Linked DNA regions of Homo sapiens. The protein of the gene in region 3 interacts with the protein of the main gene of each other region in a biochemical or structural test. Each region holds a gene or a part of one and is shown on either strand. Other genes may lie near its edges.

Region 1 (3,745 bases), on a different chromosome or scaffold from region 3:
TGCTGGGGTTACAGGCGTGAGCCACCGCGCCCAGACTCAAATCACATTTTTTAATGATGTTACAAACGAATGTCGATTTTCTCGATGTGATTCTCAGTTACAGAAACTTACAGAACTTTGCTTATCAACCCTAGACAATAAAACTATTCTACCTAGAGGCTCTAGGAAGCTTTCCTTACTCCACTGTACCTCACTCAAATCACTCCTTGATTTTACATACTCCTTAGTAGTCTTACCATCTATGATGCTCCATTACTTTTTTTTTTTGAAATTGATATACTTTCAATTTTCTCCTTTTCTGTGTTTTGGCCTTCTCAATTCTATTTTAAATGTTCTCAGGGCCCAGCCAGTGTCCTGTTTTGTATTCTGCAATGTCTAGAAGTTATTAAAAAGGCATGAAGGCTTTGCAAAAAAACAGCTTGAGGAAGTCATAACCTTTCTAAGCCTCAGTCTTCTCAGAGAATTGGGCTAGATTATCTAAGCTCCTTTTAACTCTTCAACTCAAGAAACGCTTGCTGAAAGTGTTCCCTTGGCTGCCGATCACCTTCAAATTCCAGCTCAAAACCCCCTTTGGAAGGCATTCCCTAACTAATCCCTCCCTACAGACTACCCTGCTCACTGAGCCTTGAGATTTAGAAATTCAGTGAATACCGAAGTAATTATCAGCAGATTGGCATACCGTTGGTCAAGGGGAAAAGCACTTGATGTGAGTAGGTAGCAGGATGGAATGAAAAGAGCATCTAGAGTCAAACTGTAAAGTGCTACTCCAACGTAAGGTGATAGTACTAATTTTACAGATTAAATGCATACCAAAGTTAGTGCTAGAAAGAGCGCCAGCAGGAAGCAAAGCGAACTTTTAAAGGGCTGTTTAGTTCACTGGGCTCTCTCCTTCGCCACTCGATGCGCCCCTTAACCACAGAAAGTGGGAACAACGGGGTGGTCCAGGGCCCTTTACTCACAGCCCAGCAGGCAGGATTCTCCTACACCTTTTGAGCAGCCTCGCATTTCACTCAGTGTGCGCCATCCTTGGATATACCTTGGCCCCTACTCCCGTCCGTGAACACGGGAATGAGATTTACGGAATGAGATTAAATGCTGGACTAGGTCTTCTTCCTGCCCGGGCCAGGGGCGGACACTAGCGCCCCCTGACCCCCGCCACCCCCTCCTCGGCAAGTTTATTACCCACAGTCTCCCGACCGCACCGTCCAGACCCCGGGGCAGCTCAGCCCGTCGCCTCCCCCGGCGCTCCGAGCCTGGCCCGGCCTCTCCCAGGCCCCGGCCCCCCAGGCCCGCCGCTCCGCCCAGCCCGGGCCCCGCGCACCTTGCTCTTCACCTCCATAGTGCCCAGGCAGCCGCTGCCCGCCCCGTGCCGGTGGCTGCGGTTCATGCTGAACGCCGAGCCCCGCGACGGCCTCCTCCGGCCGGGCGGCCCCTCAGGAGCGCGGGGAGCGAGTGCGCGACTGGGGATCTCGGAAAGCGGTTGCGGCCCGGGCGCCTCCTCACAGGCACCTGCAGAGGGGGCGGCCGCAGCTCCGGCGTCCGCGCTGAGCTCCACTCCACCAGCTGCTCACACGGCGGGACCGAGGGTCGGACTGGTGGCGCGGCAGGCGGGGAAGCAGCTCCCTCCCTCCGGGCCCCGGCGGCGACGGCGACAGCGCTGGAGGAGAGGAGGGGGCGGAGCGGAGGCCACAAGCGCCGCAACCTCTCCCTCTGCCGCCTCCCCCGCGAGCCCGCGCGCGCGCACCCGAGCGGACCACAGCCGCGGCGCGTGCGCGCGCTCACCTGCAGCCCCCGAAGATGCCGCAATCCCTCGCGTTCCGCCCACACCCAATAGAAAGCGCGCACCTGCGCCCGCGGCGCCAACCAATCGATACACGCCTCGCGCGGTGCGTGGGCGGGCTGCCTCCTCAAAACCCCGCCTACCACCGCACGATTGGTCCTGCGCTACGAGGGAGGGGCGGGATCACCTGAAGCCATGGCCCTCCGCCCCGCTTCAGGCCGGAGAGCCAGAAGGCGCATGCGCGGGTGCTGGAGTTTCCGCCCCGGGAAGGCACGCGGGGAGGCCGGCCGGAAGCGCGAGCGCACCTGAAGAAGGGCTCGGCTGGGTGGGCCTTTTGCGCACGCGCGAGCGCGCGCCTGGTTGCCCGGCTCCGCCGGGGCTCGCGCCGCTTAGCGCGCGCCAGTCACACGCACGGTCCAGGGGATTGGATGCGCCGCCCGTCCGGTTGCCGAGGCGCTGCGGGGCTATTCGGTTCCAGCCGGGCCCCCTTCCCGCTTCCACTTTGGGATGCTGCAGCCCCCAACGACGCCCCTCCACCGCCCCTTATCGTTGCTTAGGCGTCCCGCTGCAACTCTTGGTTGCAAAATTCAAGTTTTCCCGCCTCTGCAGCGGTTGCTGGGGGAGAAGCTTAGGGCTCTCTTGGCTTCATTTTGTCCGAAGAGACTCTGCACGCCTTAAGTCCGTCAGGTCGAGAGGGAAGGAAAGTGGGCTGAGGCGCGGGAAGGCTCCTTGCAGGCCCAGCCTCCCTGAGGATTTCTAGTCCAGTCTTTCAGGGCTTTTTTTTTTTTTCTTTAAAAGTCTTCCTTTTCCCTCCTCCCGCCATTCCTTGGCCATTCGCTGTTTCTACAAATGACAGCCTCTAGGTTGTGTTCGTTTCCCGGAGTGACCAAGCTGTGTCCCAGAGCAACAAAACGCTGAATCCTCCTCTCTGAACGTCCCAGAGCCCGGCCTCTCTTCACACAGACCCTGTGGGTCATGGGGAGGAGAGGAGAAGACTGAAGCTTTTGGCTGGAGGAGATTCCCAGGTCCCAAGGTCTCCCTGTGGGACCCGGGAATCCAAGAGCTGTTGAAACCTGCAAGCCAGGAAGGGGGCAGGGGAATGGAGGTGGAGGGGAAGGTCCAACCTGAGATTTGGCAAGAAGAGTGGTTAGGGTACCTTCCTCCCCTCATCTCCCTGCCCACCTCGGAGGCCTCCTAACACTTGTACCCCTGTTGCCCAGCACTTGTTACAAGTTACAGGTTTCCCATTTTTGTGTGCATCTGAGTTTTGTGAGTAATCTGCCACCAGCCTAGAATGAAAGCTCCCGAAGGCGCAGGGACGGCTTGTGCTTTGCTGGCATTGAGTGGCACAGAACCCGACTCCCAGCGGGTACTCAGATGGGTCTTTGCTGGGTGCTGCCACTGAGGGTGTCCCTTCTGCAGGCTCTTTGCCCCACTTGGGTTCAAAGGCGAGAAGCTCATTTTTTTCCCTCTGGAGGATTCAGGTAACCAGACGTTTTGTGGGAGGATTTAAGGTTTTTCTGGCCACCTGTGGCAGCACAGGTGGAAAGGACACCAATCCAAGCTGTATAATAAATAAGCAAGCTGCCTCCACCCCCTGTTTGAAAGCACATAGGAGGTGACTCAAGTTCAGCCGGAAATAAAGTGCATGTCAGGGCCTGTAACTCCCCTGTTTGGACTAGCACAGCAGTTCCCAACCTTTTTGTTTTCAAGACCCCTTTACACTATTAAAAATCATGGAGGACCCCAAAGTACTTTGTTTATGTGTAATGTCTTTCAATATTTATCTTAGAATTAAAACGGATGTGTCCAAAACATGGGAGTACACAAGCATGCATTCCAACAGTCATCAGAGTGATGATGTCATCACATGTCTTGTCCCTTCTGGAAAACTCCATTGTATACTCGTGAGACAATGGGAATGATGAGAACAAATGACATCTTAGTTTTGTGAAAGCAGTTTTG
Region 2 (3,745 bases), on a different chromosome or scaffold from region 3:
CAGCCTGGGCAAGAGCGAGACTATGTCTCACAAAAAAAAAAAGAAAAGACAATTATATTCTATATAAGCACATATGTCAAGATACTATTTTTTTCTAGACACTCTGAAATCAGAAAATATCAGAGAAATAGGGCATTTCAGTAAATAATATATAAAATTGATCAAATTTCTTGGAATGGGTGATAAATTTTATTTTTTCCATGACACAGCCCTCAGGAGATCCTGAAAACACGTGCCCCTGTGATGAGATTTTTAATCAAAATCATAATTCAAGATCATGTAAAAGCTAAACCCACTGTACTGACTTGGGTCACCCTCAAGTAGAACTTATATATTCTCTCCCGTTTTAACATTCTAAAACAAATTAATGTTAATCAATCCACCTTAATTTGTCAAGTTCAAGTCCGTCTTGCCAAAACTAATTCAGGTACATGGTAAAATTTACCAGATTTTTAAAGATAAAATAATGAATTGCTTTTCCTATTTTTGCCTGTTTTATCTATAAATCTCTTACATTATAATTTAATAGCTCATCCTGCCGCAAATAGAAAGCCTATAAAACCTATCCACAATAGCTATGTCCACAGGGATCTAGTAAAAAAAAAAAATCGTAGTTCTTAATTCAAGGAAGCTTATTTAATAAGTTTCATTACCACCAATACTTCAAAGACACCAATAACCAACACGTCATTTGTTCCTATTGCATAATTTAACAGGTTATTAACTTCTGGTATAATCCAAAAGCATAATTAGTAAACTATCATTAAAACATGATATTGCTTTTTTAAAAAATCAGAAATATTAACACCTTTCACTGCGTCAGTCAAATCAAAATTTCAAAATTTTTGTTCAACTGACTTTCCAAATCTAAATTCTTACTATTCTAAACGAGTATGGAGACAAAACACACACTCCATACTACATCTAAAAACTTCCTAGCCATCAGATTTTAATTTTAGCATAAACTGCCAAGAAAAACCTTTTGACCGAAACCTACATTCCGTACACATTACTGTATGTCAATCAACAGAAGGTGAGTTATGATCATTAGAAAGTTACATAATTTACTACAAAGATCGTTTAAAGCAAACTTCATTAAACGTAGGTTATAACAATTTACATGCTTCAAAGTTCAACGTGCAACCTTAAAGTATCAGAAACCATGAACAAAACTAGGCTTTTCTTTTAAAGTGGTCACAAGGAAGCAGGAACTGTTTGCGTGTTTAAGAACGCAATGAGCAGCAGAATACCAGCAGCTGAGTCAGGCAGAGGAACGCTGACTACATTCTGACTTCTAAAGGAAAGCGTTCCCTCGCCGATTTCCCAGACCCGGCCGGGAGAGTCCCGCGCGTCGCGACCTCGGAGAGAGGGCGCAGGGGGCAGACGACTCCCCGCCGCGCCCCCTGCACCTCGGGCTCGGCTGGCTGTGGCCCGCGCCAAGGTGCATGCCCAGCCAAGCAGAAGGAGCGGGCACCGCGCAGGCAGCGTTGCTCCGAGGGACAAAGGTTGGGCTCACACCCTCCACGGCCGCAGCTCGCGCGCCTGAGGAAGCCCGCCTGGCTGCCAGGGGTCTCCCGCTGGCCGGAGTTTGCGCAGCGTGTGGGGGAAGGGGAGCCCGGCCGCCCGCCCCTCCCCCGCCGCGCTCCCAGGGACCTGTTGATTAAGATCTCTACAGCCCAGCCGCCGCCGATCCGCCTCTTACCTCCACGCCTCGGCTCCGCGGAGCCTCCCGCCCCGGCCGCTCCTACGCACTGCAGAAGCGACAGCCCTCCGGCGGCCCTTGAAATTCCGGATAAAGAATCCAGAAACTCCCGACTCCCCACCTCAGAATCCTTAGTCCCCGCCCCCGCCCCACCGCCTGCCTCCTCCGTCGCCGCCGTCACCGCCGCAGCCGCCAGCAACTCCACTTCTAGACCGCGCGAGACCGGCCCCTGCGGCCGCCGCGAGACCGCGCACGCGCCCCCGGGACTCTGGCGCAGTGGGCGCGCGGATCCGAGTCCCACCCCGCCCGTGAGAGGCTGGCGCGGCTTGCCCAATCCCGAGCCGGAGCGGAGAGAGCGCCCGCTCATTGGTCCTCTCCGCAGCTCCAGCCGGGTGCGCGCAGTCGCGCGCCTCTAAGTCTAAAACGCGGACTGCTCCGGGCTAGCTGGCCCGGTAGAGCCCCTTCGGGATTTGGCCGGCGGGCTTTGTGGGGACGCGAGGCTTCCCTGGGTTTCTACATCCCTTGGCTCTTGTCTCTGGATGACGTATCCTGAAGAAAATCTGATTCCTCTTGAAGAGATTCCTCATGTCCTGTCAAGTTAGTCACCCAATCTAACATTTGTTTTTTTTAAAAAATGACATAAACACCTGGATGTGTGCAGTGTCCCGCAGAAGACTGCATAAAGCCAGCAGCTGCACTGATTTCTGAAAACCAGAAAGCAAGGATAGCAAGGACTAGAACTATTTCCCAGAAGTCTCCCGAAGGGACAGAGTTACGCAGATCAGCCCGTGCTCCGGGCATGGCTGGCGCCCTCGGGACCTGGATGTGCCACCCTTGGAATGGGGCAGGACTCAGGCGGGTGCGGGCGGAAGTCAGAGCAGATTGGAGGACGTTCTAAGGAGAAACACCAGCAATGTGTCTCGACACTTGCAATAAAAGCCCTCGGATGGTCTCTGTCTTGACAGTACCTTCCGAGCAAGCCCATTCCACATTTGAACACTTGCAAGGTTTGTTAATCGACCTCTCCTTCTATGAGGCCAAACTATGCCTGTGACTCCAGCCCGGGGGCACAGTTTCCCCCAGGGGCACAGTCCTCCCTCAAAGCCTTCGTATATGCCATTTCCATTTCTCTCGGTTTTCCTCATTTTGTCCCACGGTGTTTTTCCATCTCGCAATGTCCTCAGGTCCTGATTTTCAAGCTCTTTCACATTCTTCCCCATTACGCTCCTCTGGACAGCCTATGGGTTGTGGTGTCCCTCACTAAGGACACTGTGATGGCCTGAACGAAGCAAACCGTTGTTCCTGGTGGTGAAGATCTTTGGGGATGCCTACCCTTCCCAGATTTGTTATCCTTCTCAAATCTGATCAGCATTCTGTCCAAGTGTTTAATAAGACAGAGCGGAGGACAGAACTCTGCTGCATGCCACTAAAGACCTTAATGCTCCTGCCATCAAAAATTTCTCAGTAGGCTTCGAATACAGGTGGACGACACAACCGAACTGTCTTCTTGGCCCATATTCCTCCATAAAGATGCCATGAGAACTGGTGAAATGCCTAACTGAAATCCAGATAAAGTCTCCAGGATTCCTAGAAACTACTAGCCATACCCCAAAAGAAAAAACGGTTACTGTGTGTGACTTACTTCCTTTTCTAAGTTCTTTTGTTTTTGTTTTTGTTTGAGACGGAGTTTCGCTCTTTTGCCCAGGCTGGAGTAAAGTGGCGCAATCTCGGCTCACTGCAACCTCCGCTCCCCGGGTTCAAGCGATACTCCTCCCTCAGCCTCCCCAGTATCTGGGATTACAGGTGCCAGCCACCACGCCCGGCTAATTTTTGTATTGTTAGTAGAGACGGGGTTTCGCCACATTGGCCAAGCTGGTCTTGAACACCTGACCTCAGGTGATCCACCTTTCTCAGCCTTCCAAAGTGCTAGGATTACAGGCGTGAGCAACCGTGCCCCGCCTCTAAGTTCTTAAATATATAACATAAATAATAATTCAAGAAGCTTCCTCCAGCTCGTCAATGAATTCTTCTTTCTCTAGCTTA
Region 3 (3,745 bases):
TTAGCTGTTTGTGATGATAATGCAGGCGTGTTCTATAGAGATACTGTCCACCCTGGTGGTATGTATCCATTTGGTTATATTTCTTTTCTTTTTTTGACAGTCTTGCTCTGTCACCCAGGCTAGAGTGCAGTGGCGTGATCTCGGCTCACTGCAACCTCCGCCTCCAGGGTTCAAGCGATTCTCCTGCCTCAGCCTCCCAAGTAGCTAGGATTACAGGCGCCCACCACTACGCTAGCTAATTTTTGATTATTTTTTAGTAGAGACGGGGATTTCACCATCTTGGCTAGGCTGGTCTCGAACTCGTGACCTCGTGATCCACCTGCCTCGGCCTCCCAAAGTGCTAGGATTACAGGCGTGGGCCACCATGCCCAGCCTTGGCTATATTTCGTATAGCTGTGATTCAATGCAGATTTTTTTTTTTTTTTATGAGATGGAGTTTCACTCTTGTCACCCAGGGTGGAGTGCAATGGTGCAATCTCGGCTCACTGCAATCTCTGTCTCCTGAGTTCAAGCAATTCTCCTGCCTCAGCGCCCCCCGAGTAGCTGAGATTACAGGCACCTGCCACCACACCCGGCTAATTTTTGTATTTTTAGTAGAGACAAGGTTTCACCATGTTGGGCAGGCTGGTCTGGTTTCGAACTCCTGACGTCAGGTGATCCTCCTGCCTAGGCCTCCCAAAGTACTGGGATTACAGGCGTGAGCCGCCGCACCCGGCCATCTGTTTTCTGTATGTTCTTATATGTGAACACCTGTGCAGTTGTCTTCTGTACAGGTTTGGTTCCACACAGGTGTTTACCATACAGCTGTTTTTTTGTTTTTAAAATTTTTTTAGAGACAGGGTCTCACTTTGTCACCCAGGCTGGAGTACAGTGGTACAATCATAGCTCACTCACTGTTACCTCCACTCCTGGGCCCAATCGATCCTCCCACCTCAGCCTCCCAAGTAGCTGGGGCTACAGGTGCGTGCCATCACATCTGGCTAATTTTCTTATTTTTTGTAAATATGGGGCCTCCGTCTGTGGGCCAGGCTGATCTCGAACTCCTGGCCTCAAGTGATTCTCTTACTTCGGCCTTTCAAAGCGCTGGGATTACAGGATCACGCCACCGCCCCCGGCTTATTTTCTTCTTTTTATTTATTTGTTTATTTATTTATTTATTTTTTGTAGAGAATGAGGCCTCGCTGTGTTGCCCAGGCTGGTCTCGGACTCCTGGCCTCAAGCAATCCTCTTGCCTCGGCCTCTCAAAGTGTTGGGATTACAGGCGTGAGCCATTGCGCCTGGGCAGGTATTTTTTCTCATTAAGCGCTCCCCATCCAAGTCTGCCCTAGGCAGGAGTGCCTAGTGCACGGGTACATACATACCCCGTGCGTCTCCACACCTGTGCGCTCCCACAGATATGCTCGCAATGCAGGTGTAAGGTCCCCCTCACACCTGCGCGCTTCCGCGGTCTCCCTCCCCGCATCCCCATTAAGGGACTGGGGTCCCGTTACAGGTGCGCCCACAGCGCGGCCCCGCCCCCTTCTTGACTCCGCCCTCTCAGCGAGGCTCAGGTGCACAAGCCGGAAGTGCGCTCTCCCAGGTGAGTGACTAAACTTTCCGGGTCACGTGACAGGGCGGAGCCGGTGGGGTCGGACCCACAGAACGACCGACGGACCGAGGGTTCGAGGGAGGGACACGGACCAGGAACCTGAGCTAGGTCAAAGACGCCCGGGCCAGGTAGGAAGGCAGGACGCACCGCTAGGCCTGCCCCCTCGCCCGTCCACCCTGCCCGTCCCGTCCCGTCCCGTCCCGTCCCCTTCCTTTCCCCAGCCCAGGAACGCGCTCCTGGGAGTTAATCTTTAATCGCTGACCTCTGGCGGCTGGGGCGGGGCGGGACTCATGGGTGCCCTGGCGCCAGTTGTCTCTCCTGTGGGCCTGCGCCGGGGTCCCCACCCCGATCCCAACGCCTGGGCCTCTCCTTCTCCTGTCCCCAGGTGCCCCGTCGCAGGTGCCCCTGGCCGGAGATGCGGTAGGAGGGGCGAGCGCGAGAAGCCCCTTCCTCGGCGCTGCCAACCCGCCACCCAGCCCATGGCGAACCCCGGGCTGGGGCTGCTTCTGGCGCTGGGCCTGCCGTTCCTGCTGGCCCGCTGGGGCCGAGCCTGGGGGCAAAGTAGGTACCAGCTGAGAGCGCTGGGGGGGAGGGGTCTGGATTCCTGGATCTCTGCTGGGGACGTGGCTTAGAAGCGCTGGGTATCTGGGGCGCAGAGAGGGTCAAGAATTGGGGAGCGGGGAAGAAATACCTTGGGGAGGGGTCTACAGGGTTAGGGCTCGGGGGGATTAAGATTTCTAGTTTCTTCCTTGGACACTGGGAGTTGGTCTAGGAGACCTGAGTTCCCCAGCGAGGTGGAATTGTGTGTTGGAGTGGGGGCTCCTAAGTAGGACTTGGGGGGAGGTAAGGGCTGCGTACCTGAGTCTTGGTATAGTGCAGGTGTTTTTGGGTGAACTGGGAGCTGGGAGGAGGCCTGCCGAGCCGGGTCGACCTGGTTGGCTGAAGGTGTAGACCCCAGCCATTCAGTCTTAGATTTGTTTTGGGAGCCTGTGGGGAGGTGTGAGTCAGACACTCCAGGGAAAAGCTAGGCCCGCCCAGATCCTTAAGGGCCCAGGGCCGAGAGGTGAGTAGGGGAGGGGTGGACTTCTGGACACCCTACTGGGCTCTGCGGGACTGGGTCGGGGGGGTGTCCTGGGGAGCAAACACCCAAGGGAGAGGTCTTACCTGCAAGACACCCAACCATCTCTGTGCGAATGAAAGGCAGAGTTTGAATTGGGACCTGCTAGGGGGAGGTGAAGGGGAATGCCCAAAGCAGGTGCAGATGGGCGGGGATGGGAGAGAAAGATGGAGACTGAGTTATTCTCTGCCTTCACCCTCCACAGTACAGACCACTTCTGCAAATGAGAATAGCACTGTTTTGCCTTCATCCACCAGCTCCAGCTCCGATGGCAACCTGGTGAGTTGGAGGTATATGTGGGAAGATGGCAGCAAGGATGTTATCTAGGGGTCACACATATAGCATGTAGAGAGGACTAGACACCCCCTCCCCCCAGAGGTGGCAGGTCAGGGTGGCTTTGGAGAGCTCTAAGTAGGAGAGACCTGAAGTCTTAGACCAAGAAGACTAGGACACCCTGGAGGGAGTGGGCAGGAATACTGTAGCTGTCAGATGTGTGGGCTCAGGAATTCCATATGCCTCTCAGGTGGGTGGGGGAGCAAGGAGCTCAGACTTGGTAGATGTGATGAAAGCAGGAGTCCCGGCCGGGCGCGGTGGCTCACGCCTGTAATCCTAACACCTTGGGAGGCCGAGGCAGGAAAATCATGAGGTCAGGAGTTTGAAACCAGCACGGCCAACATGGTGAAACCCTGTCTCTACTAAAAATACAAAAAATTAGCCAGGCGGGGTGGCACACACCTGTAATCCCAGCTACTTGGGAGGCTGAGGCAGGGGGAATTGCTTGAGCCCAGAAGGCGGAGGTTGCAGTGAGCCGAGATTGTGACACTGCACTCCAGCCTGGGCAACAGAGCAAGACTCGGTCTCAAAAAAAAAAGCCGGAGTCCCAGACATGGCAGGTGCTTGCGAGGGGTGTCCCGGACATGGCAGGTGGTGGGGAGCCTTCGCACCCCAGACAAGGTAGGTAGGGATCCAGGAAGCCCCACTGTGGGGATCAGATCACCAAAAGTGGCAGATGTGTGTATGTGTGTGTGTGTGTTGTGGGG

What was found.
Region 1: the proteins of CRB3 (region 3) and PARD6B form a complex in vitro, tested with the Homo sapiens proteins (one study listed by BioGRID).
Region 2: the proteins of CRB3 (region 3) and PALS1 form a complex in vitro, tested with the Homo sapiens proteins (one study listed by BioGRID).

The regions. Positions count from the first base shown.
Region 1 is NC_000020.11:50,729,429-50,733,173, reverse strand, and holds the start of PARD6B (partitioning defective 6 homolog beta), read right to left. Parts: upstream 1,595-3,745; 5' UTR 1,388-1,594; coding exon 1,322-1,387; intron 1-1,321. UniProt on the Homo sapiens protein: Adapter protein involved in asymmetrical cell division and cell polarization processes. Probably involved in formation of epithelial tight junctions.
Region 2 is NC_000014.9:67,239,491-67,243,235, reverse strand, and holds the start of PALS1 (protein PALS1), read right to left. Parts: upstream 1,802-3,745; 5' UTR 1,703-1,801; exon of another isoform or gene 1,654-1,702; intron 1,563-1,653; exon of another isoform or gene 1,251-1,562; intron 1-1,250. UniProt on the Homo sapiens protein: Plays a role in tight junction biogenesis and in the establishment of cell polarity in epithelial cells.
Region 3 is NC_000019.10:6,462,635-6,466,379, forward strand, and holds the start of CRB3 (protein crumbs homolog 3 isoform a precursor), read left to right. Parts: upstream 1-1,636; 5' UTR 1,637-1,716; intron 1,717-1,973; 5' UTR 1,974-2,067; coding exon 2,068-2,149; intron 2,150-2,910; coding exon 2,911-2,984; intron 2,985-3,745. UniProt on the Homo sapiens protein: Involved in the establishment of cell polarity in mammalian epithelial cells. Regulates the morphogenesis of tight junctions.